Linked DNA regions of Homo sapiens. The protein of the gene in region 4 interacts with the protein of the main gene of each other region in a pairwise test. Each region holds a gene or a part of one and is shown on either strand. Other genes may lie near its edges.

What was found.
Region 1: the proteins of EEF1D (region 4) and ALX1 interact in binary tests that used the Homo sapiens proteins (3 or more experiments, as listed by UniProt).
Region 2: the proteins of EEF1D (region 4) and TPT1 interact in binary tests that used the Homo sapiens proteins (3 or more experiments, as listed by UniProt).
Region 3: the proteins of EEF1D (region 4) and VDAC2 interact in binary tests that used the Homo sapiens proteins (3 or more experiments, as listed by UniProt).

What each region holds. Positions count from the first base shown.
Region 1 is NC_000012.12:85,283,211-85,290,239, reverse strand, and holds part of ALX1 (ALX homeobox protein 1), read right to left. Parts: intron 6,669-7,029; coding exon 6,364-6,668; intron 3,388-6,363; coding exon 3,259-3,387; intron 1-3,258. UniProt on the Homo sapiens protein: Sequence-specific DNA-binding transcription factor that binds palindromic sequences within promoters and may activate or repress the transcription of a subset of genes.
Region 2 is NC_000013.11:45,332,947-45,338,188, forward strand, and holds the end of TPT1 (translationally-controlled tumor protein), read right to left. Parts: intron 4,664-5,242; exon of another isoform or gene 4,608-4,663; coding exon of another isoform or gene 4,530-4,607; exon of another isoform or gene 4,443-4,529; coding exon 4,440-4,442; 3' UTR 525-4,439; downstream 1-524. UniProt on the Homo sapiens protein: Involved in calcium binding and microtubule stabilization. Acts as a negative regulator of TSC22D1-mediated apoptosis, via interaction with and destabilization of TSC22D1 protein.
Region 3 is NC_000010.11:75,206,266-75,213,812, reverse strand, and holds the start of VDAC2 (non-selective voltage-gated ion channel VDAC2), read right to left. Parts: upstream 3,018-7,547; 5' UTR 2,875-3,017; intron 2,680-2,874; 5' UTR 2,655-2,679; coding exon 2,624-2,654; intron 2,332-2,623; exon of another isoform or gene 2,230-2,331; coding exon of another isoform or gene 2,154-2,229; intron 1,584-2,153; coding exon 1,515-1,583; intron 1-1,514. UniProt on the Homo sapiens protein: Non-selective voltage-gated ion channel that mediates the transport of anions and cations through the mitochondrion outer membrane and plasma membrane.
Region 4 is NC_000008.11:143,587,416-143,594,444, forward strand, and holds part of EEF1D (elongation factor 1-delta), read right to left. Parts: exon of another isoform or gene 6,481-7,029; coding exon of another isoform or gene 6,478-6,480; exon of another isoform or gene 5,246-6,477; 5' UTR 5,232-5,245; exon of another isoform or gene 4,797-5,231; coding exon of another isoform or gene 4,674-4,796; exon of another isoform or gene 3,193-4,673; intron 2,667-3,192; coding exon 1,576-2,666; intron 1-1,575.

The DNA.
Region 1 (7,029 bases), on a different chromosome or scaffold from region 4:
CAGCTGTTGCTACTATAGTAAAAAGACGGCCAGTTGAAACAAAGTATTTATTAGAACATATTAGAAAGTATTAATTACTATATAGAAATAAACATATTATGCTTGTACATACTGAGCAGGCTTGAGGAGATCATTTTCTAAACTATCTCTGTTTTTCATGTATTTCTATGTATGGCTTTTCTTTCTGCCAAATTGCTAATTCTTTATTTCTGTCCTGCCTCTAACATTTTCTAGTTTCCAACTTTTCTGAAATTAATAATTTTTTCTGTAATTAACAGTCACCAAATCCAATGTCTTATTAGACTGAGATATTGGATTCTACTTCTGTTTCTATTTCTCCCATTACAAGTTCCTATTTTCAAGCCCCATGATAAAAAAAACATTTCATTTAGGCTAACTCTTGAGAGACATGATCTTGGCCCAATTATTTTTTCAAACAAACTAAAAAAGTATCTTGTATATATTTAAGTTAAAATAAAAATTCCCCCGGCTTTATCCAGTATCTACAGTGGGGAGTTGCAGCCACATAATTTCGGAAATTTTGGTAACCAAACATTAAATGATTTACCAATACAAGAAAGTACTATGGACTTCATGGTATTAATTTTTATTATTATTCATGATTGGCACTGTTGAAGTAATTCCAACATATGTTCTCCATTCTTAAATTATCAGGTGGTATAGCCAATGTATACAAAATTATGAGGAATAATTAGTGCAACATTCCCATGATTTGTGGGGGGAAATTTTTTAAATTAATTTTTCATTGGAGTGAAAAAGATGATCAAATATATAATTTGGTGTACCATGTCCGTTCCTCCATCGGTGTCTAGGTTACCTCATTCTTTTAATTAATAATATATAAAGCTTTGAGGTACAATAACACAATGGTAAGATAATCTTAGGGAAATGAGATGGTTACTCAGAGTACACTGAGTCATATTGAGCATTTATACATGTCTTAAAGCTGTATAAAGTTTTAGATTCAGAATATGCACTATTCTGAATGCTTTACCCTTTATATAGGTCTTAATTGATGCTAGGCCCTATTCTGATTGCTTTATCAAAGAAGCAAGAAGAGTCAAATATAAAACAACCAACGTACAGGGACAGAAAAGTTGAAAACAGACAGAAATGGGGTTTGAAAGGAAATGAAGACTGAAAGAATAAAATGCACAAAAAAGTAGTCATAGTCAAGTGTTGTGGAATATACTTAGTAAGAGTTTAAAATCCATGTGAAGAGCTCATAATTTGTTACTTTATTACGTCTAAAGTCACCACAGTCAAGTAGTTCAAAATGATATAAACCATTCTCCATTTCACCTATATTTTTATTGTTATTTCTCTGGTTGTGGCTCCTGACACTAAAGCGCAGACTTACAATAATGCAGCTCAAACTTTATGCTCCTTTGGTATCATTTAAATATATTCACAGGTAGAGACAGTCTATTGTCAGGTTAAAATCTGGCAAGTGGGAACCAAATTGTCTCTGGTCAAATCTGAACTTCACCTTACCTCTTTCTCATTTGAGCAATGGAGACAATTAGTAACACCTAGCACATAAGGTTGTTGTGAGGATTAAATGAGATAATATATGTAATCTGCTTAGAACAGTGCCCAGATATACAGTGAGGGCTACTGTAGTGTTAATAACCATGAAGACACTGCAGTCCCTGTCCTCATGGAGCTTGCAGCCTAGAGGGGAAAGATTTTTACAGAATTTTGTTTAGAAACTAACGGCACTCAAACTAACTCACACTGACTCAACTAAGGCACTCAAAAATATTTGGCAAACAAAATTTGACTAGCCCTATGATGGTAAGTAACCACCAGAGGTAGCCTCATGCTTTAAAATAGGAGAAAACATAAGGTAACCTCTTTAAGATAAATTTTAAAAGAGAAACAAGATTCCTCCTATGGCAAGGAGATAGGAGGCATTTATTGAAAAGGTATCCATAAGAATAGTCTTCTAGCAAGCCATTGGGTAAAGGTTTAGACGTAGCGACCTTTACAGTCTCTCCTGCAGGAACCCACTTGTATGATCACAAACCAATTCCTTAACTCAATTGAGCCCGTTTTCATAACTTTTTTAAAGGAAGGAGTTGAACAAGGTGACCTCCAAGACTTCTTTTATTTAACATATAATATTATATTAATAAATTTGGGGGATTTATCTGGAGGAGTGAGGTTTCTAAAACTGGTTTTTAAGAATCATAAAAGGCATAGGAACACAAGGAAAGAACAACATTAAAGAACTGAATTTGTACTCATAGTGTTGAAGAAAATGAATACTCAAGTTTGGGGTTCAGATCATCTAGTTAGTGAACTATCAAGGTATTTCTCCAGCATATATGTTTCATATGTGTTTTCACATGGGTCTCTTATAATGCATATCATTAAATAATAAATAACAAAATAATGCATAGCTCGTTGCTTATAACGTAGGTTTTTTTTCATCATGTATCAAATACAGTTCTGAATATCATTATTAAGTATTAGGAAAAAGTGACACAAAATAAATTAGAAAGACAAACATTTACATTCATTACAAAATATGAAAAAGAAATATATAGTCTTATATTGAAAAAGAAAAATGAGAAGAAAAAGAATTTCTAACACTTTTTGTAATGAAGTAAAAGAGCACCCATTATAAAGGGAAGCTGTTACTCATCTGTGATTAACTTTTAAAATTATGTCTGATACTAATTCTATCTCTGTTTTAAGTCAAACAGGACCAAATGTGGACCTTTAGAGAATAAGCAATTTGAAAACTGAAAAAAAAAAAACATAGAAAAAGAGACACATTTTTAAATGGAGTTAAGGGCTTAATAGGCCACATTTGACATCAGGTTTTAGTATAGTTCATAAAACAATATCCACAGAGATTGCATGCTAAGCAACACTCTATTTACAGTATTTTTAAAAGTTAACAAAAGGAAGAGAGTCTGAGTAATTAGAATGTAGGATAATTAAAATACCTGTATCATTAAATGATGCTATTTCATTGGTGGCAATATACAACAAAATTCAAAAGAAAAAAATACCCTGAAATATTTTTAAATGAATGACTCTGTAAGAAAACAACAAGAAAATAATTCAGAAAAATTAAAACTTAGCAGACATGAAGAATGTTTTCTGAAGCTTAGATTTTCATTCTTGGCTATTATCTTACATATAATAAAGCCTATGCTAACCATTTTAAGAATATACAAACCAAATATCCTTTTCTTGATCAGTATTCTGTGTAGTTTAGCATACCTGTGGGTAGCTGTCAGTCCTTGGCAAAACTGATATATCATAGGTGGCAGCAAAATGGCTTTTCGCTTGTTGTATTTGGCCATAACGTTCCCTTTTTCTCCATTTGGCCCTTCGATTTTGAAACCAAACCTAATTATTTAATAAAAATTAGAATTTTAGCTAAGGAATATTTGATAAAGCAAATGTGATGTTAAAAGACATCAAACAAGAAAGGTAAACCAGGTTAAAAAAATTACGTAAAAAGAAATGTATTTATGTTAGAAAAGGATCCACAGATTTTACTTTTTCTTGTATCTTGATGTGGTAAGTGATTTTCCCATGAGACAAAATAATTTAATAGAAAGAGGCAGGAGACTTTCGGGAAATACATCTGATACGTCTGAGCCTCTGTTTTCTCATTTATGGAAAACAAAAAGCAATTAGATTATATGATCCTGAATACTCCATATATCTCCACATTGTCATGGATAAGTCTCCTTTAAGAGAATGCTGCAAGTCTGGAAGATGTATATGCCGTAACGTAAACTCAGTCAATCTATAAGCAAATTAATATCTGAGTCTATTAAAACTTATCTTTAAAATATATCACAAAAGTGAAAGCTCTTCTCAGTTGTGCTCATACCTACATAATCTTTTAAAATTTTAAACATAAAGATTACACCTAAATATATGGCAGCAGCAGGAACATCATGATTATCTAGAAATAGGAAAAAATGAGATTACATATTATAATAAGCATGACAAGAATTATAGGTAAAAAGGAATCATCTAAAGTTGAACTATGGTTTTAAAATACGTGAATGTGCTTATTACATACATTATGCAACTTATTTTCCCTTATGAAAATGCTCGGATATCTTTACGTAATTTCTCTAATTTAAAGCACAGGTAATGGAAATAATATAAGAAATAGGGCAGATAGAACCAAGTGTCAAGAAAGTCTATCAGTTACTGTGGCAGCTAAGGTCACTAAGCTATCTTCCACAATTTCTCTAATTACCTATTAGAAGTATTTATTATAAGAACCATCTTCCTCAGCAGGTTGGATATTCATTAATTCATACCTGTAATATTCCAATATCTTCACTTTAATATTAAAGGGAGATGCAGAAGATTATATTCAATATATATACTTGGATGTTTTTAAATGAACATTATAGGAGTAGCTTTTGGGAATCTAGTCTTCTTCACACAATTATGTTCAGAATATAAAATATTTAGGAAAAAGGCTAGAAATCAAATATAAAAAATGCAAGTTGTAAAAGCCTTTTGTTGAAGTTTACTTGAAATTTTCACTCTTTTTCATACTCAATTCTAATCTTGTATATCTTTACCTTCACCATTATGGCAACATATTAATACTCAGTTTAATTTTTTAGTACACATTACAAATTTAAGATGGCACTTTGCAGAGTTTTCAGCAATTGAAATGAGCCAGAGAGCTACATGTTCATTATAGTTTTAGTACACTGCTGATAAATGCATATTATCCATTATGCCAAGGCTCAAGACATCAACAACAACAAAAAACAAATCAAATTTTCTTGCTGTCTCCGCAGATGAGCCCCAGGAACACACTAAGGGAATTTAGTAATACGTTTTTGGGTTTTATTTTTTTTTCCATTGACAAAAAGAACTTGACAATTTCCTTAAAATGAGTAATAGTTACCACTCTTATGTGCAAAGCAGGAAAGAGAACGACCTGAGTAAATTAAGTTCAAGTTGGCTCTCTGTGCATGTTCTCAGACAAAAATTAATCAAGACTTGGTGAATGTTAAGGGGAAAAGATGCATTATGTACAGTTGGTCACTCTGTGTGCAAACATATTTGTTTATGGTTACAAGTATAACTAATTTAAATATAGACAAAGACAAAAATCTCAAACTTACACAGCGGGTGTTAATACTCGACAATTCTAAAATTCTTTGTTAGCATGAACTTTCTACATATTTACTTCCTGAACCAAGATAAAGTAACCATTTGCTTCCACAAACTCAAGTAAAAATCTGCTGCTTGTTATCCGTGTGCCACCAGATGTTGTCTCTAATGATGTAAGAGCCTTACAATTTTAAGAAGAAATACCGTTACTCGATTTAGAACAAAAATTTTCACTATTTTATTCATTCCCCCATTTTAGCAGTTTATGGGAATTGCAAAAATCAATACTTTTGTAGAGGAGTCAGAACACACACAAAGACCAAGGCCATTATCCTGAATTATTGTTGCATTTTAAACTCTTACTACTTGGAAACTAGTAAAATATAGTTTAAGAATATCAAATGTAGTCAAAATAAAGTACTCCTAAGAGGTAAAATTTTACCTGGTATGATTTTTCTTTCTCAAATTATTTTTAAAAATTAAGCATATTGGATCATCCAATTTAATAACTAGAATATATCTTATAAACATAATTGAGTATACACAAAAATTTACTTTAAAGCCATTATTTTTATTGCCTATGCAAAATTCATATGATTTATCTAGACTTTAACCATTATAATGGAATATTTACATGTTGACAACTACTAGGACTATAAAATTGTAAATGAGCACTATTTGATCTTGTTTTTAATTATCCATAGTGAAAACATTCCATGGTATACATAACAATTGGGAATTTGTGGGATTGTTTTTTTTTTTATTATGCCTCCAAATCTAGAAATTTCTAGATGTATGGGCTATTATACAAATAATTTACAAATACCTGATATATAATCTAAAAAAGAACCTTAGTGGCTAATAAAACCGAAAAAAAAAAAACAAATAAATATACCAATTACTAAATAGTCATGATTCTGCTTTTCATCCTTTAAAAACTGCTTTTGAAAATCAGAGATATATTATCATATTGTTATGTTTGAATGATTGTTAATTTTTATGTCTCTGTAATAACTTGTGTTCTTTTGTTTTACATATTGCGTGAGTTGTCAAAATTTTTGCAATTAAAAAATAATTTTAGTAGACATATATTCATATATATTACTCCGTTTCTCATCTTCAGCTAGGGAATCAGTTTGTTTCTTTGTGGCAAAATGCACTTATTCAATTATTCTAACACCATTTATTTTCCTATCCCATCCATCAAGGCCTCTTTTTGGCTCCTACCTGGACCCTGGCCTCAGTGAGCTCTGTCCTCAGAGCAAGCTGTTCTCTGACATACACATCCGGGTAATGAGTTTTCTGAAAGACTTTCTCCAGCTCCTCTAGCTGCAAACTGGTGAAGGTGGTTCGGTGCCTCCGTTTCTTACTGCTGGATACATTGCTATCACATTTATCCCCAAGTTCATCCAGCTCTCCCTTCTCTTGCATCCCTTTCACGGGAGACATTCGGAGACTGTTACAGTTGTCCATAGCTCTATTCAGTTCGGTGTGAAGGGGCTGTCCTTCTACTTTAGTGATCCCATAGTTCACTGTACCCAGAGGAGGAAAAACAACAGTTCTCAGGATTGTGAAACTCATCTCAATTAAATCAATAAGTAGAAGTAATTGAGAGTATCAAGAAATTGGCCTATTAATAATTTATTGTGCTAGTATTAATTCAATTACCACATTTCTATACTTAATTCATTGTAGGACAGGTTTAAATACCATTTTAAAATGTGTTCATGCAACTGCTATGATCTGCCAAAATCCGCAGTTCTATTTTACAGGATTTATAAGTTTATGCACATGTTTTTTACTTAAATTCATGTACTCGAATTAAAAGATGATCTGGGTGTTTCATGAAAGAAACTTTAAGTGTCCATGATTTTTGAAAACTGAAGCAAATTT
Region 2 (5,242 bases), on a different chromosome or scaffold from region 4:
CTAGCATAGCAGCCAACTTTTATTCAATGGAAGGTATGTGGCACCTTTCTCTTTCAAGAGACAAGACCTCCCTCTATTACCAAGGCTGGAGTGCAGTATTGCAGCCATTAACTCGCTCCAAGCTCAAACTCCTGGGCTCAAGCGATTCTCCCTCCTCAGCCTCCCAAGTAGTTGGGATTACAGGTATGAGCCACTGCCTAGCTATGGCACCTTTTACTTTACTTGCTTATGTTAAAAACACTTTAATCAAGGCCTTTTCCTTCGGAATAATGAAATATTAAATGTTTCCAGAAACTTCAAGTTGCACTCACAGTTCTTATGGATAGTCTCTAGAAACACATGCTAATTGCCACAAAGCTGGAGCTCTTTAGTAGTGACCTACTAGTTGTAAATTACTGATCACTATACTAGTTGTAAATTAGTAAATCCTCCTGGTTTTAGTTCCATTTTACTGAGTATTCTGCTGCCAGCCAGTCATTCCACTCCACCTGTGTGCACACACATATAACCTTAAGGATGCTTTGTTATCAGTGTTCTCTCAAGTTGGTTGAGATTTATTGCTCGTCTTGCAATTTTACCATAATTATCACCAGTTTAGTTTGCAGTTAAGTTACTGACAATCCCTGCAGTTCAGAATGACAGAATTTACATCAACAAAAATCTAGTCATTTAACTAGATTTTGAAACTCCTAATGATCCAAATGAGTAATTCACACCTATTACTGAAGCAGATGCACACATAATAAAAAACCATGTACCTGTATTGTATTTCATGCCTGCGACTGTTAGTCTCTTGAGTGCATTTTAATTAGACTTCCTTTCCCACTAGTGAAATCCAACGGTAGTCAAGTTTACCACTATCAGGCCTCATATTACTTAAGTACTTTGCAACAGGTAACCCTGTTGACTACTTCCTCCTTCCTAAAACTTTTTCCACCTGACCTCTGGGAGGCCCTCCCTTGGTTCTTACCTCAGGGGCAGTTCCTTCTTTTTTAAAATTTTTAAACTTTTTTCAGATAGTGTCTCACTGCCGCCCAGGCTGGAGTGCAGTGGTATGATCACAGCTCACTGCACCCTCAATCTCTCGGACTCAAGCCATCCTCTCAGCTCAGCCGCCTGAGTAGCTGGGACTACAGATGCCCAATTAATTTTTTTAGGTCTCCCTATGTTGCCCAGGCTGGTCTCAAACTCCTGACCTCAAGCGATCCTCCCCACTCAGCCTCCCAAATTCCTGGGGCTACAGGCATGAGCCATGGTTCCTGGCTAAATTTTAGAGATGGGGTCTCCCTGTGGTGCCCAGGCTGGCCTCTAACAATCCTACCTCAGCCTTCTGAGTACAAGTGCAGTGGGAGCACCTCTTAATTACCTTTGTTGGTTTCTCTTTGTCAACCAATCTCATGTTGGAATGCAGTCTATCCTCTCTCCAAATGACCTTATCCTGTATCATGGCTTTCAATGTCTATTGTTATCTTTCCACTCTCTATATAGTTCTCCAGCTTAGACTTCTCTGAAGAATCAGCATCTCAAACTTAACACATCCAAAACTAACAAAACTAAACTCGACTTCCCACCTCAGTGCCAACTTTCTTCCAAACGCTCAGACCAAAATACTTGTATCAACATTAAATCCATCCTCACCCACCAGCATATCCTGTTGTCTCTATCTTCATTTCCTACCACCTCAGTCTACTACCCTAGACTAAGCCACTATCTTTGCCTTAAAAACACATTATACACAATTATTCTATGCTTTTACCCTGCCACCTGGCAGCCAAAGTGATCCTTTAAAAATTTGAGTCATATCATGTAACTCTTCTGCTCAGAGCGCCTGTGGTTTCCTTGAGGTCTGGTCTTCCTTCCTTGCACACTCCCACTGCTTTACAACCCTTCCTGTCTTCTTGGGTTAGCAAAGTGGCCACTTTTTTCCCAGAACACATCACACTCCAGACTAACTGCTGTTGTCTTGGCCTGGAATGGTTTGTCCTGATATCCACATGGCCTACTTCCACACCTTCATTTGTTTTCAAATGTCACATTACAAGGACCTTCCTAGAAAAGTCCTCTTGCTCCACTCAGTTGTTCTCCACACTTTAACAAACCCTAGGGCCCACAGGCTACTAAAGCATGCCTTTGTTAAACTTAGCATCAAAAACAAAATGTTATGAGCTTTCTGATGTTCACATCCTTATTCTTGCCCAAAACGTCTTGACCCTAGGAATAACGAGAAAAAGATATAAAATGAGACAGTCTTCAAAGTCTGAGAAGATTCTACCTGGAATCTTCAAAGGTTTACCATGAGGTAAACAGCTGGGGTTCATCACTTCTGACTTAAATAGACATGATAAAATGCTATGTCCCAGCCTTGATTGGATCTGGATGTTGGGAAAACAGCTAAGAGCACTGAAAGGACAACTGGGGAAATACCTCTTCTGCAGAACTGAAAATCTTCAAAACAAGTTGGAGCAGTGGAGCCCACAAAGTCTCTGAATTGCTACTTGTCTGTTTCAGGCTTCCAAGGCTAGTTCACCAATTAGCTTCCATCTCTCACCTCAAGGCCTTCTTCACTATCCTGGTTTCCCCAGCTTTGACCACTGCCTGAAAATTCCCTTCCTGCTATCATTTCAGAGGACAAAAGGCCCTGTAGATGAGACTCACACTTTTCATTACAATGTCAAATCAGAACGCTAAGCCAGGTGCAATGCCTCACACCTGTAATCCCAACACTTTAGAAGGCCAAAGCTTGAGATCACTTGAGGCCAGAGTTTTCAGACCAGCCTGGGCCACATGGCATGACCCCATCCCTACAAAAAATCTATCAGAATGCTTAAAATTGCTATTAAGTTCCCAATACGTATTTAGGTTTGTTTCCAATCACGGGGTGCTGGGGGTTAACATTAGTATCTGCCTCAGGTTTTGGACACTATGGACAGTCTGGAATTTGACACTAGGGCAAACTCCAGATTGCTCAAACCACTACATTCACATGTTCAAGCAGACCAGAGTCACTGGCCTGCTTTTAATCTTTCTTTTACAAGTGTAATCAACCAGGTAAGGCTGATAGACTATTTCCCAAAACTCACGTTTTGAAAATTCCCCTCCCAGGCTAGGCCTGCACTTTGGGAGGCTGAGGTGGGCAGATCTCCTTGAGCCCAGGAGTTGAGACCACCCTGGGCAACTAAGCGATACTCGGTCTCTACAAAAATTAGCTGGGCATAGGGGTGCATGCCTGCAGTCCCAGCAACTAGTGAGACTGAGGTGGGAAAATGGCTTGAGCACAGGATGCAGAGAATGCAGTGAGTTGCTTGTGCCACTGCACTACAAGCCTGGGTGACCGACCTGCCTCAAAAACTCTTCCCGCTTTTTTTCCTCCTGTATTCCTCTATTCAATCTCAGCTGCCACAATTAGACAGACGGAAAGCGCAAGGACATGTTCTTCTTGCATCTGTGGTGGAAACCATAGCAGCAGATAGCAACTGCTCCAGGTCTGTCAAATAGATGCATTTTCTTATTCAGACACCCCATCTTTTCAGATACAATATAGAGAACATTTTTACCCCTTTGCCCACCAGCCAGCCCACATTCTGTGTACCTTCATCTTTTAAATCAGGGGCTGGCAAACTTGCAGGCTCTAGTCTGTTAGACACAACTCTGCTCATGCACTGACAACAGCCACAGTCAATCCATAAATGAATAAGCATAGCCACGTTCCAATAAAACTGGACTCGAACTTAAATTCCATATCCCACAAGGTATTCTTTTCCCCTCAACCATTTAAAAAGGCAACCAACCACCTTAAAGTGTACAAAACAGGTGGTCAGATAGGCTAGTTTGCCAGTCCCTGTTCTAGTTACCAGGGAGTTTAATTAACATTCATCCCAAAAGACTTCGCTCTCTTTATGTGAAATAAGCTGAGACAAAGTTGCTTCCACTGAATGAGTCTCTTTTTATTCTCTTGGTAATCTCTTCCAGTTAACTACTTCCGTTGTAGGTGATGAAATGGGTAAGGCTCCACACTTCAGATGTTGGCACTGCTATGAGCATGGTCTTTCCCTTTATTGCAACTCAAAATCAGAACCTTTGATTCTTTTTTATATTCCAGTCCCAGAAGTAGTCTCCACTGTAGAAGTTAATTGATGAGTAGTAGCCTACAATCAGGCTCTAGCTTCTCCAGGAACACTACAGGATCAATTTAGTTTAAATATGCATTAAACTAAAAGGCATTCTCTCAAATGAGTTTAAATGCATTTTATTTTTAGACAACCTACATGACATGTTTTTCTTAAAAACAATGCCTCCACTCCAAATAAATCACAGTCAAAATAAATGAAGAGCTCAAGATGACATCAGTCCCATTTGTCTTAAGTCCTGGTGTTGTGTGGATGACAAGCAGAAGCCAGTTATGATGACAGGTGATAGATCCAAAATAATTGCCACATTTGTTACTGTAAAAGCAAAAACTACATTAATATTTTTCAAACATTACACTGCAAAAGTTACATTACCATTAACATGCAGCCTACATTTCCAGGCTAAAGATGTATTCCCCAATTCAATCTGGGCCGCCACAAAGACAGACAGAAAGCGCAGGGATTTCTTTCTTTTGCATCCTAGTGCAAACCAAAAGAACAACAGTAAATTGTTCAAGGTCTATCAGTGGATGCAGAACACCCTTACCAAATCAGCGGTAGCTCATTTTTCAGAAGGCTGTGGCATGTACCACCCACACCCTGCTCTACCAACAAAAACCTCAGATACTGTCTGAATAACCCCTTTGGTAAGTCATCTTATACTGTTCTAAGTAATTTCTGTCTACTGTTGACTCTAATCTTGTTCAGTATAGCTTTATGTTTTTCTTCTTCCTTATACAGAAGCCTATGAAAACTAGGATAATGAATGCCTTTGTTTCTGTACAGCTTCCAGCAGTTCCTTCCATAGAAGACACCAAGTTATTTATTATTAGTAAAACAATTTGCATACCAGTTCAGCAGTCAGCTCTATTTACTAAGCTAGTACTGCACTAGGCTTTTCAATGATCAGCTGCCCATTATCAGTAAACCAAAGTGAAAACCACTGATACTGATCCATACGTATACAGCAAAATATGATTATGAAGTGAAAGTGAGGCCATATCTAGAGGAAGATCAATGGTGTTCTCTGATCTCCTTCAGCATTTAAACTCTACTGTATTTTTTTGAGACAGCACCTCACTCTGTCACCCAGGATAGAGTGCAGTGGTGGGATC
Region 3 (7,547 bases), on a different chromosome or scaffold from region 4:
GTCTAGTTTTTGGTAGTTGGTACACAAAAGAATGCTTTCAAATTATTTATTTATTTATTTATTTATTTTGAGACGGAGTCTCACTCTGTTGCCCAGGCTGGAGTGCAGTGGCACGATCTCAGCTCACTGCAACCTCCACCTCCTGGGTTCAAGCGATTCTCCTGCCTCAGTCTCCCGAGTAGTTGGGACTACAGGTGCGTGCCACCACGCCTGGCTAATTTTTTGTATTTTTAGTAGAGATGGGGTTTCACCGTGTTAGCTAGGATGGTCTCGATCTCCTGACCTCGTGATCTGCCCGCCTCGGCCTCCCAAAGTGCTGGGATTACAGGTGTGAGCCACCACGCCCAGCCCCCAAACTATTCTTAAACTTAAATATCAGATTAAAAAATCATTCAACTGAAATTTCAGAATAGCTAATAACTTATCATGATATGGCCAGGTGCGGTGGCCCACGCCTGAAATCCTAGCACTTCGGGTAGTCGAGGCAGGCAGACCACTTGAGATCAGGAGTTCAAAACCAGCCTGGCCAACATGGTGAAACCTCGTCTCTACTAAAAATACAAAAAAAAAGCTGGGCATGGTGGCATGTGCCTGTAATCCCAGTTACCAGAGAGGCTGAGGCAGGAGAATTGCTGGAACCCAGGAGGCAGAGGCTGCAGGGAGCCGAGATCACGCCCCTGTACTCCAGCCTGGGCAACAGAGCGAGATTCCGTCTCAAAAAAAAACAAAAACAAAACCAACTTATCATAATACAGACATTTAGGACATTTATGCCAATGGGGTATTTCCAACAGTCTAAATAAAGGGGAGGAGGGTATGGAACAAAATTTTCAAGAAAACTCAAATTCACCTGAAAAAGCTCATAACTCTAGATAAAGTATTAGGAGTCACCACAAAAGCAAAACAGTAATATATCGTAACTCTAGTCAACCAGGGCCTAAGCTATAACTGAAAAAAAATTAAAGCACGAGCCGTTTTTCTTAAAGGCTCAAATCTTCTAAGTACAGTTTTTAAAAATTTTGGGAAATTGGGGGAGGGGGATGTAGACTGTAAAAGAACTATTTTCACATAAGTTTAATCTAAGTATCTTAAGTTTCTAATAGAAGAATTAATACAAGGCTGGGCACAGTGGCTCATGTCTGTAACGTAATCCAACCAGGCTTTGAGAGGCCACTGTGTTTACTGGGTAACACAGTGAGACCCCACCTCTACGAAAAATAAAAAAAATTAGCCAGGTGTGGCAGAGCGTGCCTGTAGTCCCAGCTACTTGGGACGTGGGAGGCTGAGGAAAGATGATCGCTTGAGCCCAGGAGGTCCAGGCTGCAGTGAGGTATAATCATGCCACTGCATCCAGCCTGGGCAACAGAGGGAGACCCTGTCTCAAAAAAATAAGTAACTCTAAATTTAAAGCAGCAAGATATTTACAATTTGCAATGATTGATCTGATTTCGCTAAGCAACCCAAACATACATTTTCACTCTTTATCTAAAACGTTTTAAAAATAAGGTTCTTACCAAATCCTTTGTTGAAAATATCTCTGGCAGCTTTGCCAAGGTCAGCATATGATGGAGGAATACACATTGCTGGTAGAAAAAAAACATTCCAGTGTTAATGTCTCTATTCTCCCACCTTCTATCCAAGAACAAGAGCATGACCCACTGCTGATATTAAAATTCAAGCAATCCCATTTGTTGGAATGTTTTTTATGCGGTCAGGAGCTACAATAGAACTATAACGACCCATAAAGGAGATACCACCAACGAATTATTTCTAAAACAGATAACCATGATTATACAAACTTGGGGAATTCGTTTCAAAACGGAAAAACAGTCTATTACCTACAGCCTCACTTCCTAGGACTGGACAAGTACAAAGAATCAAACAAGTATTTGTGTGTATGGATATTTATGTATCTGCCAAAATTCACTGAGATGAGCTGATTTAACTAAATTAGATAAAACCGAAACCTAAGACTAGGCCCTTTACCCTGATACGTCCTTTAATATCTTCGCTGAGGGGAAAACCAACACCCTGGAGTGGGAAGAGAATTTAATACTGGGAATTTAAATATTGAAACTTGGAAAAAATACTGCCATGTGTGTTTCACTCAAATGTCTACATCAACTAAATATCAAATAGCGCTTCAAACTTACTAATGTGACTCTCAAGTCCTCGGCCAATGCTGTGCTGCTTAAGGGCAGGCAATCTGAGCTCATTACACCAGCTCATTCATTCCACAAAGCACGTCCACGCCCTTAGGAGCACAAGTAATGACCTTGCGCTCTCACAAGAGGGACTGCTACTTCCTCTAGAAAAGTGATTGATCCGATCCTCCAAAGGCAGAATCCCCAATTAACAACTTTTTACTTCTATACGTCAAAGACATGTACAAAGGCTGAAAAGTCCATGCGGCCACAGACCAACTCCCCGGGCCTTGTTCCCCATTTGAAATCCAGCAGCCCAGCCCCTCCTCCGCAGAGGAGGTGGTCAGACGGTGGGGCGACCACCAAAAGCAGCCGAATTTCCAAGTTCTTGGAAAGATAGGGGGAAACAAACTGGGTTTCTGGTCGACAGGCTTCGACTCTCCGCCGCCCCATCCCGCAGAGATCCCAGCTTTACTTACGACGCGCGCAAGTCTGTCCGTGGGTCGCCATGGCGAGGCCGCGGGAAGAGGGGAATCTGCGGGAGGGACAAGAAGTGCGGTAAGCTGGGGTCAAAGGGCCAAAGGGAGATCCCGGGCAGAGAGGGGCGAGGGGCCGCGGGGCAGCGCGGCCATCTTAGGAAGCCAGGGCCGACTCCGAGTCCGGCGCGGGCCTCCGGCTTGGCCGCCGCGGCCTAGGCCCCTGGGTCGGCGTGAGGCGGGCGCGGCGGTACCTGGTGGTGTCCTGAGGGGGGCCGCCGCCACCGCTCCGCTAGCTGCTGAAGCCGCTTGGCACGCTCGCGGTCGGGCTGCAGCTCCAGCAGCTGGAGGGCGAAGTGAAGGAGACACCGTTCCGCCCGCCGCAACCCTGTCCTCTCCCAGACAGGACCCCGCCGCTGCCCCCGGGGCTGTCCGCCGCGCCTGTCCCTGCAGCGCAGCCCGCTGCCAACTCCAACCTGCTCCAGAGCGGCCACGTGGACCGACAGCGCCCCGGTCCTGCAGGTGGGCTGCCTCCGTCCGTCGGTGGGGATCCGGAAGGCAGAAGCTGCTGGGCCTTGGATCAGGCAGCTATCCGGGCAGCCTCAGAGGCGAGGGGGCGGGGAACGGCGGAGGCAGCGCGCTGGGGACCGCCTGGGAGGGGGATGGGGCGGAGGCCCCGCGCGAACGCGTCACGGACGGGGCGGGGCGTCGGCGCGTGGCCGGGGCGATAGGGCGCGGCTGCGCACCAGGGTCACGTAGATCTCTCCTACTCCCCTTACGCGCTGGTGCGGGTTCCCCCCCGAAACAAAGCCCTGCATAGGGTGCCTGCGGGGAGTCAGCTGAGCGTTACCCACGTCCATCCTAAGCTAGCGCAGCCTGCGCTTCTGAGGGACCGCTTCTCTTTCCCAGCCCAGGGAGAACGAGTGGGACACAGGGGCGCCACCTCCAGCCCCTCGCGCTCTTCTGCCCTCTTTTCCCACCTTGGTGTGACTGCCTTGCTGTGCTGGGTTGTGTGCCTGAGAGGCTTTTTGGGACTGCCTCTCCCTGAACAAATGTGAGCGGGTCCTAGCGTGCCCCACCCATTTCCACGCCGCCTTACGCTTTCTCTTCCGCGGCTCCTCCCCACTCAGGCATGGCACTGCTTCACACACGCACGGAGCCGGAGCTTGGCGAGGCAAGCCTGCTCCGGGCCCAACCTCCTCTGGATTATGGGCCTGGAGAAAATGTGGAATCATGCTGAGCAGGCGTTAGAATGCCGCACCCGAGTTCCCCGGGTGTGCAGGAAGGGTGACAGAGCTATTAGATAAAATGTATATGGGAGACCGTTAGTTTAGACTGACCTCCTGCATTAGGCCCATCAGACCAAACCAAAATGGGGTTACTCATGCTGAAGTTTCACACTACCACGCCAAAGCTAGGATCTTTATCTGACCTTCCAAGAAATCAGGAGAGAAACAGATGCTAGCCAGATCCCCAAACAGGCTGGGCGCGGTGGCTCACACCTGTAATACCAGCACTTTTGGATGCCGAGGTGGGCGGATCGCCTGAGCTCAGGAGTTCCGGACCAGCCTAGGCATAGTAATACCCTGCCTCTACCAAAAAAAAAAAAAAAAAAAAAAAAAATAGCCGGGCGTGGTGGCTGGCGCCTGTAGTCCCAGCTAATTGGGAGGCTGAGGAGGGAGGATCGCTTGAGCCTGGGAGGTTGAGGCTGTAGTAAGCTTAGATGGTGCCACTACTGCACTCCAGCCTGCCCGCTGGAGTAAGACCCTGTCTCAAAACAAAAATCCCCAAACAGGTCAGTTTTAGCTGGCATGAAGAAGTCCCGTGTTCTTTAACCTTTACAAGAAAAGTAACTTTCTACCAACTAATCCACTTTTTGTTTCTGCTTTCCTCGGTCCTTTTCTGTCTGTAATACCAACTTCCTCTTCTCATTGGAACATTCATTCCATTTTACAGAATGAAGCGTTGCCCAATTGTAGAATTGGAACTAAAAGCCAGTTAAGATGTTTAAACTAAATTCTTTGTAATTTTTTCTTTTAACAGAGCCAAAGGAAAAAGAAAAAATGAGCAGTCTAATGAAATAGAAATGGGTTCAACTGGAACTCCCAAAGCAGTCATCTATCCAATAATGTCGCCGGTAGACCTCAGTGGTTTTTTTGGGTTTTCTTCTTTTTTTTTTGAGACGGAGTCTCGCTCTGTCGCCCAGACTGGAGTGCAGTGGCGCGATCTCGGCTCACTGCAATCTCCACCTTCCGGGTTCACGCCATTCTCCTGCCTCAGCCTCCCGAGTAGCTGAGACCACAGGTGCCTGCCACCACGCCCGGCTAATTTTTTGTATTTTTAGTAGAGTCGGGGTTTCACCATGTTAGCCAGGATGGTCTCGATCTCCTGACCTCGTGATCTGCCAGTCTCGGCCTCCCAAAGTGCTGGGATTACAGGTGTGAGCCACCGCGCTCGGCCTACCTCATTTTTTTAATCTATAAAATGACAAATGAAACGAAGTGATCTTTAATAGCCATCAGCCATAGTCTCTGAGCAAAGCCTTTTCCCCCTTGACTTTCTCTGGCTCTGAAAGCCATGTCTGCTCAAATGCTCTCAACGTTCTACCCTCCTCCTAAACCAGAAAAGGATAGGCTTCCACAGTTCAAAACCCAGATGAAAGCTGCAGCCTGGAAGATTTCCCTCCCATGAGCAAGCCCAGCCAGCTGTCTTGCCTGGTCATGACTGGGCTTACTCATGTTGCAAAAGGTTAGCAGAATTTACTTCTAAGACATCAGGCACCAGAAGCCCTCATTCATTCCTTCATTCGAGCTCAGACAGGTCGGTTTGCAGTCATCCTGGCTCTTCTGGGAAATAGTCTGGTATGTTTGATGTTATTGTGAGGCTAACAACAAAGACCGGCATTTCCATCCCAACTGCACCACAGCACCCTACCTCCCCGAAACACCCAGTCTGATAAATGAGTCACCTCCACTACCTGCAGCAGGGCTTATTCACAATGTGAATTTTCTGTAGCAATTTGTAGCCCCCTGCACTTCACTTTCTCTGTGGCTTCACCTTCTGCAAACCCAAGGAATGTACACAATACCTAATGACCAGGGGAAGAAGATCTGTGGCTAAACAGGGGAATAATGGCAGTTTTTTCCAGAGCTGAATTTAGTAAATAAATATGAGTGCTTACATCCAAAGTCCTTTAGACCAAAGCGGCATTAGTAGGTAGTTACTACCTACCACAAGCAACTACTTTGTGTCATCCACAGGGTAAGCAAAGTCCACTGAGACACAGTCCCTACTCTCAAGGCACTTAACAGTCAAGTGTGTGTAAAGATGTCAAGAACAGGGGAGGGTCCAAAAGTTTACCCTACTTGCAAACTATCAAGTTAGTCTGCCATAGTTTCAGAGGCTCACAGATGCTAGCAGAAGACATGAGACGTATGGGTCAAGGACAAAAGACTCTCTTACTTGTGGCCCAGCAGGCAGTGTAAGCTTCGTGTTTTGCCTCAATTCCCCCTGTCCTCTGTGTCCCTCAAGGATGATGCCAGAGCAGCTTAGGTGGATGCTGTGCACAGCATGCATTCGTGTCACAGCCAAGGAACCCTAAGCTTACAAAACCACGTGTCTTAGAAGGAGCTGCTAACAAATCTGCCCAACCTTCATACTGTGAAAGGAAAATATCTTGGGCCCCCAAGATCATTAAGCTAAAGGGAAAAGTCAAGCTGGGAACTGCTTAGGGCAAACCTGCCTCCCATTCTGTTCAAAGTCATCCTTCCGCTCACTGAGATAAATGCGTATCTGATTGCCTCCTTTGGAGAGGCTAATCAGAAACTCATTGCAACCATTTGTCTCTCACCTACTTGTGACCTGGAAGCCCTCTCCCCACTTCGAGTTGTCCCGCCCTTCCTGACCACTTTAAGTTGTCCTGCCTTTCTTGACCGAACCAATGTTTATTTTACATATGTTGATTGATGTCTTACGTTTCTCTAAAATGTATAAAACCAAGCTGTGCTCTGACCACCTTGGTTACATGTCGTCAAGACCTCCTGAGGCTGTGTCAAGGCTAAGTGTCCTCGACCTCGGCAAAATAAACTTTCTTTTTTTTCTCTTTTTGAGACTGAGTTTCGCTCTTACCACCCAGGCTGGAGTGCAATGGTGTGATCTCTGCTCACTGCAACCTCTGCCTCCTGGATTCAAGCGATTCTTCAGCCTCAGCCTCCTGAGTAGCTGGGATTACAGGAGCGCCACCACCACGCCCGGCTAATTTTTGTAATTTTACCACACTAAAGAGATGGCTGCTTTACTGTGTTGGCCAGGCTGCTCTCAAACTCCTGACCTCAGGTGATCCGCCCACCTCGGTCTCCCGAAGTGCTAGGATTACAGGCGTGAGCCACGGCGCCAGGTTTTTTTTTTTTTGCTTTTTGTTTTTTTTTTTTGAGACAGAGGAGATAGAGTTTCGCTCTTTCGCCCACACTGCCACACTGGAGTGAAGTGGCACAATCTCAGCTCAATGCAACCTCCGTCTCCCAGGTTCAAGCGATTCTCCTGCTTCAGCCTCCCAAGTAGCTGGGATTACAGACACCTGCCATCACACCCGGCTGATTTCTGTATTTTTAGTAGAGATGGGGTTTCACCATGTTGGCCAGGCTGCTCTCGAACTCCTGACCTCAGGTGATCCACCCACATTGGCCTCCCAAAGTTCTAGGATTATAAGCATGAGCTACTATGCCTGACCTGGCAAAATAAACTTTCTAAATTCTCAAATTTAAATTCTAAATTCTGAAATTTCTCAAATTTTCGGGGTTCACAATCCCTGAGGGGGAGATTATTATACTGCTCAGGAAATAAAATCTTTTCTCTGCCCCAGAGAGAGATACTATCTTCCAAGGCTGTTTGCTAAGTAAACATCCTTGGAAAGATAGTCTGAGACAAA
Region 4 (7,029 bases):
GCCTCCTGGGTTCAAGCGATTTTCCTGCCTCAGCCTCCCGAGTAACTGGGACTACCAGTGCACACCACTGTGCCTGGCTAATTTTTTGTATTTTTAGTAGACAAGGTTTCACCATGTTGGCCAGGCTGGTCTTGAACTCCTGATCTCAGGTGATCCACCCGCCTCGGCCTCCCAAAGTGCTGGGATTACAGGCGTGAGCCACCGTGCCCGGCCCATTTCTCAGTTTTAATTGCTAATGTGGTAAAAATCAATAGATACAATGAAAGCTCTTTGGGGTCCTGAGAGCAAGAAGGTTGAGAATTGCTGCCCTAGACAGGGACCATGGCCCGCAGGCAAATCCAGCCTGTGGTTTTACTGGCACAAAGCCCCACCTCGTGCCACTCCCACTGGCCAGCAGCAGAGGAGCTGGGCAGATGACTCTGTGGCCGGGGCCCAGACCCTCTGGTTCTTTATGGAGTTTGCCGCCCCCCACCCTGGACTGGCCAAGACCCTCTTACTGTCCAACCAAGCACAACAGAACTGTCCCCCTCCTGCCCTGCCGCCAGTCTGTGTGTGGACTCCGGACCATCGCTGGACCTTGCCAAGTGTCCTCTCGGTAACAAAGGGCTGGAGTCTGTGAGCGTCCTCTGCGTCCCTGACCCAGGACACTCTCTCGGCAAGGAGGGACCAGGCCACCGTGAACACCAGGGCAGGTGGAAGGGCAGGAGGTAGCATTCCCCTATGGGGTCCTGCCCTCAGGTTATCTTGTTAACCAGCAAATCCAGACCCCTAGGGGTCCAAGGTTGGAACCACTTCCTTGGGGGCCTCAGCAGCTGCTTGGGACCTTCAGAGTCCTTCCCTGACTCAGCCCGCCCCACCACCAGGACACCCTCGCCAACAGGCCAGCCTCGCCACTTCCATGCCCTCTGTATTCCCCTCCAAGTCCAATCGTCCACCCACCTGCCTGGCCCCAGAGACCGCTGCTGGGGTTGCACCTGCACCCTGGAGCAAGCCCACAGCACCCAGAGGGAGGTCACACAGACGGGGCACCCTGGGATGGAGGCCACCTGACCAGCCACATGCCCATGCATCTGAGACGCCACCACCTTCCCTCAGAGGTGGTTTCAGGTGACAAGGAAAGCTGGGGGTGCACAGGATGGACAGGCAGGGACACACTGGCTCCCACATCTCATCGCAGGGGAGCGCTAGGGCCAGAAACCAGCTTCAATGCTTCCCGCCCCTATAAGTAGCCTTATCTTCTCAGCCCTGGCATGTGACAGCCACAGGGGACTTGGGGAGCTTCCCAGCCAAAGAGGGACCCTGGGCAAGGCAGAGATTCTGCCCTGTGCTGAGCCCTTCCCTGCCCTCATCCAGGCAGCCTGGAACTTTGTAACCTCAAGCAGTGTCCCTGGAACCCACAAGCGCAGCACCACCTTTACTCAGCCTGCTCCTGCATTCAACTCTGCTGGGCCCACGGGTCTCGGGGAGCCCCCACCCCAGGTGGGCAGGGGAGGAAGCTGGAGGAGCCCCAGCCTGGGATGGCTGTCCCTGTGCCCACAGCCCAGGCTGGGTGCCCACCCAGCACGTTTCTCCTACTTGGGTCTCAGGCTGGACACGGACAGGCCAGACCGAGGACCGGGTCGGTGAGACAGGGAGGCAGCTTCGAGGCACCAGGCCACCCGCAGGGCCTCGGCAGCGTGGTGGCGGCACTCGGCGCTGTCGTAGGCAGGCTTGCTGAGCCAGGGGGCCTCTGCATCCTTCTGCAGGAAGTAACAGTAGGGCAAGGCAGAGGGGGCCTCCCCATCGGCCCGTCGCAGCCCGGCCCGCTTGTTCCCTAAGATGTTGCGGCCCCGCCGGTCTCTGCGGCCCCGCCGGGCACCCTCGGCCAGGCCGGCTCGCTCTTGCAGGCGCACCTTCCCTGGGGGATGGCCGTCAAACAGGGCCTCGTAGAAGCCCCTCTCGGCTGCATCATACCGGGGCTTCTCCAGCCACACCTCCCGAACCAGTGCCTGCAGGCTGCCCAGCGGGGGCTGGCCATTGACCGGTGGGCTGGGCTGGTGGGCCAGGTCGGGGACGGCCACCTGCTGGCCTGTGTTGGGAGTCCCCTGCCTGCGGCTGCCGTCGGGGGCCAGCAACAGGGCCTGAGACCACTCCACGAAGGCCCGCTCAGCCTGGTCGAAGGAGGACTTGTTGACCCAGATCCCCCAGGTCACGTGGTGGCAGGCCACCTGGTTTCCATGGGTGCAGAGACCCCAAGGGGCCAAGGCAGGAGGCCAGGCTGCCTGGGCAGCCACATCTGCCAGCTTCTGGCGGTAGGAGCTCTCTGCCTGGTCGAAAAGTGACTTGTCCAGCCACACGCGTTCGGCCGAGAGGCCCAGGAGGGCCAGGTCCGCGGGGCCGAGCCCGCTCTTGGGGGAGCGCTTCCTCTTTTTCTGCAGGGGCTTCCTGCTGTCCTGGCTCTTCCTGGGATCACGCCTGCTGCCGCCGTCAGGGGCTTCCGCCTCATCAGCGTCCTCAGGGTCGTCCTGGCCGGGCCCATTCATGGCTGGCCCCTCGGCTGGCAGCTGCTGGGCGGAGGCGGCCGCCTGTGTGGCCTCGTGTTCGTAGAAGCGCCGCTCGGCCTCCTCATACTTGTGCTTGTCTTCCCACACGGTCTCCAGGGTGCAGGAGGCCTTCCCGCTCCTCATCTTCCGGACACAGCGATAAAAAGCAAGCAGAGGGCAGAGTTGCAACACAGCGGGTGGCCGCAGCCCCGTGCCCACCCTCCCCGTGCCCGCCCTCCCCGTGGCTGCCCTCCCTGGGCAGGGGCTGAGGATGCTCCCCAGTGGGGCTTCCATGAGATGACATTCGAGGACTTCGAAGTCAAGCCCATGTGGGGACGTTTTGTTGTGAAGAGAAAACAGGCCGGGCGCAGTGGCTCATGCCTGTAATCTCAGTACTCTGGGAGGCCAAGTGCCTCCCAATACATGAACAATATATAATTTTGTTAGTGAATGTATGGCCCATGAAGTATCTGAGACATACTTACACTAAAAATTTTTCGTCATTTATCTGAAATAAGCTTTAACTGGCTAACTAGCTTTCCCTGCATTTTTCCACAGGCCAGGCCTGGCCACCCCACCATGGTGGCTGGTGTTCCCATTCTACAGAACGGTCTCTGTGGCTGTCCTGGCCACACCACTGCCACACCCAGAGCACCCTCAAAGTTCTTACAAAAGAAGGAGCCTCGGCCAGGCACGGTGGCTCACACCTGTAATCCCAACACTTTGGGAGGCCGAGGCGGGCGGATCACAGGGTCTGGAGACTGAGACCATCCTGGCTAACACGTTGAAACCCTGTCTCTACTAAAAATAAAAATAAAAATTAGCCGGGCGTGGTGGCAGGCGCCTGTAGTCCCAGCTCCTAGGGAGGCTGAGGCAGGAGAATGGCGTGAAGCCGGGAGGCGGAGCTTGCAGTGAACCGAGATGGCGCCACTGCACTCCAGCCTGGACAACAGAGCAGGGGAAAAGAAAAAAAAAGAGGGAGCTTCTTTGTGGGCCTGACTGTCCTCCCCAGGAGGGGGCCAGGTGGCCGGGCAGAGGGTGGAGTGCCCACTCATGAAGGAGACGCCAGGGAGGATGCTGGTGACCACTGTGTAGAAAGGAGGGGCCAAGCGCCTGGAGCACTGAGACGGCTCTAGGCTCTCTATCAGCTGCCCCCGCCTCCCAGCTGGAGTCCATACCTTTGGGTCCATCCAAGCTAAAGGGGAATCATGGGGCTCTCACAGTCCCAGGACATCAGGGCCCCCTCTAAGGTTTTGCTTCTGTGTAATGTTAAGAGGGACCATCTTGGTGGGAGGCAGGTTGTGAGGCTCCACTCCCCACTTGCTACTGTGGCCTGGGAGCCTCAGCCTCCTCCCTGGATGAGGTGTTCCCTCAAGCTCTGGGCGACCTCAGTCACCTGCTGCCCCAGTGCTCCAGCAGCCATGTGGGATCCTGCCGGGGGCACGCTCTGCTCCCAGGTGTCCAGTGTGGTGTTACAGAAAGGACAGGCCCAGAAGGCCAGGGGCAAATCTGCTCTTGGGATGCAGGTCAGCACCCCAGCCCGCGCTCAGCCTGCGATAGCTTCCTCCCCAGCCATGCCCGACTCCAGGCTCTGCTCCCCAAAAGCAGAAACGCCTGGGCCTAACCAACGCCTAGGAGCACCCTCAAGAGGGGGCTGTGCAGCTGCCCCTCACAGACACCGCTGCTAGTCTGCTGCCTCCGCAGGTGTGTCTAGTGGAGCCTGAGGGCAGACAGACCCAGTGGCCCCAGGGCACCGTGACTGGGACCACCTGCCTGGTCTGCACCCAGAGGGAGGCAGCCTTCGGTCAAGAGCAGACCCTTCACACCAGTGGCTATGGGTCTTCGCCCCTCTTCTAACATCCTTACCCAACAAAACCAAGGCTGGCTCCAACGCCCCCCGTGGGGTGCTGAGCTGTCTACGCTCCACCCAGGCAGGGAGGACTTTTGGGAAGGCACCCCTGGCACTGCACTCTGCAGCCTCTAAGTGGAACATGGAGTTCTTTGCGGGCATGTGGCCCGAATCCCGCAGTCCCAGCAACAAGTTCTAATGGCACCAACGAGGAACCGGGGCCCATGGGAGGCCACAGGGCCCATGAAGACGCTCCCTAGGCTCCCCTGCTCATTCCTTCCCCAGGCTGGGGCAGCACTTACCAAGGCCAGGCTGATGGGCAGAGGCAGGGGTTGTGGGTTGGGGGTGGGGTGGGAGCAAGAGCCCAGGAGACAGGGCATTGTGACATCGTGCGGTGGTACCCCCACCAGTCTCTCTGCTCCCATGGAGCCGTGCAGGTCCCATCAGCAGTGCCACTGAGCTGGCCCCCAGTGTTGATGCCCTACCAGACTTTATTGGCCAAAGTGGCCTCAGACTATGTTCTTGGGGGCTCCGGGCAGAAGCCGCCGCTCAGGGAGGGGAAGCCACTTCAAGGCTCCTACCGAGACCTGGCACTGCCACCTGTTCCCTGCAGGGAGCCGCATGTCAGCTGCTGACCCGCCAGCCCAGGACAGGACCCTGCTCACGGCCACACAGGGTGCCCACCTGCTGCTGCCCCATCCAGAAAACCCAATTCCTCCACTTTCCAGATGGGAAACTGAGGCCCTCTGGGCAGACTGGGCCATGCGCAGGTGGTGCTGGGTTCCCTCAGGTGCAGCGAGGGCTGGGGGTTCCCCGGTCAAATGAAGGGGAATGGGGCATGAGGACAGGCGAGTACTTACTTTGCTTTGGCCTCCTAGGACAGCATGAAGGAAAAGCAGCAAGGTTAGAGGCAGCCAGAAAGACTAACCGGGTCAGACACAGCAGCAGGTCAGCCCGGGGCGGCCGGGGGCCTTTCCAGAAGCTGCTTGGCGAGGTGGTGTGGAGGTGACACTGGTGGAGATGGAAGCTGAGCGCCAGACAGACCCGCCGCCACCACAATCCCAGGTGGCAGCTGAGTCCACACAGGTGACGTCACTCCGTCATCCCCTGAAAGGGGAGCTCTTGGGATTACTGTCAGTTGGAGCCTAGGCAGGCCCTGGGGGACAAGCAGGGACCACTATCTGAGCCAACCTTTCCCAAATCCACCCACCCTGTCGTCACCTGAGCAAGGTAGCCTGAGACAAGATAAGCCAGCGCCCACAAGCATCCCCTGGAGCTGCCAAGGAGCTCCCCCAAGCCCCTCACCTGCACTGCCCCTGTGTCCGGTCTGCTGAAGGAGGCCCGGAAGATGACAAGGACCCTCAAGGGGGAGGCAGCCCAGGGCTCACATTAATACAGGGCCTCTCTCTCAGCAGGAGCCACCGTCAAGACAGGGCTGGCACCCAAGGGCCCCAGCACAAGCTACAAAGGCCTCCCAGACTGACTCTCCCACAATGTGCACACAAGGACAGGACCTCCACCCAGTTCACTCCTCGGCTGGAGACACTAGGTGTCCTGCCCCTAATCTCACCAGAGCCACCTCATAAACCCTGCAAGCTCTGCGAAGGGCAGCTGGGCACAGCTGAAAGCCCAGCCACCAGCCCATGTCCTGGGTGGGACTGGGCAGGAGGGGCCACCTCCTACTGCTGATCAACCCGAGAGCCCTGGCTGGGATCCGTCTTCCTTCACCAACGGGAGCTCCGGCCCCAGGGCCCTGCCCACCTCTGTGCACCCCACACTGCAGCAGGGAGCACCCTGCAGGGAGGAACTGGGCACCCTGCAGGGGTCTGGTGGAGACGAGGATGCTACGGAGGCAGCTGCCCCATGGGACCAGTAAGAGGGATCTTGGGTGGGCTTCCCTGCAGAGAGGAAGCCCTCAGGAGACACCACAGTAAGCCATGCTGGAGACCTGGAGGCCAGGCCCGTCACCTGGGGAGCTGGCCACTAACAGCGGGCAGAGAGCCTCCCAGGACAGCCAGCACAGCCCCCCACACGTCCGAGCCCACCTCCTCATTTCCCCGCTTCCCGCATTCCCAAGCATGGGAGGACCTGCCGGACGCAGCGCACCATCTCTCCTAACAGAGACCAAGTCTGAGCTTCAAAGCTTGCGCAGACGACAGGCACGTGCAAGCCTCTCCTCTCCAGCAGGAGAGCCCGGAGCAGGACACAGCGACTCTTTCAACTGCGTCCCGACAAACGGTCAGCCCCTTCGCTCCTGCAGTTTATCCAAGCTCAGGAGGAGCTTTCTAAAGAGAACACAGGGAGACAGCTGGCTGCCAGAGAAGCAGTCTTGGAAACGCCAGAGCCAGGCCCCAGGGGGAAGTGGCCAAAGTGTCCCTACTCTGCTCCTGGAAGCAGGCCAGGCTCACCACCAAGGCTCTTCCCTGAGGGGTAGACAGTGTCTGCCAAGCACCTGAGCCTCTGGCAGCTGCCCAGAGTTTGAGAGTGCCCTGGGGTCCTGGCTCTGGAAGGCTCCACCCAGCTAACAGGGCCTGTGACACAGGTGGCAGCCAGCAAGACCCACTGCAGCGGCATGGCCCTCACAGCCTCCCCTGTCCCTGTCCTGGGAGCAGCCCCGGCAGACTCCTACCCAGAACACTCCAGGTCAGGAGGGCAGGG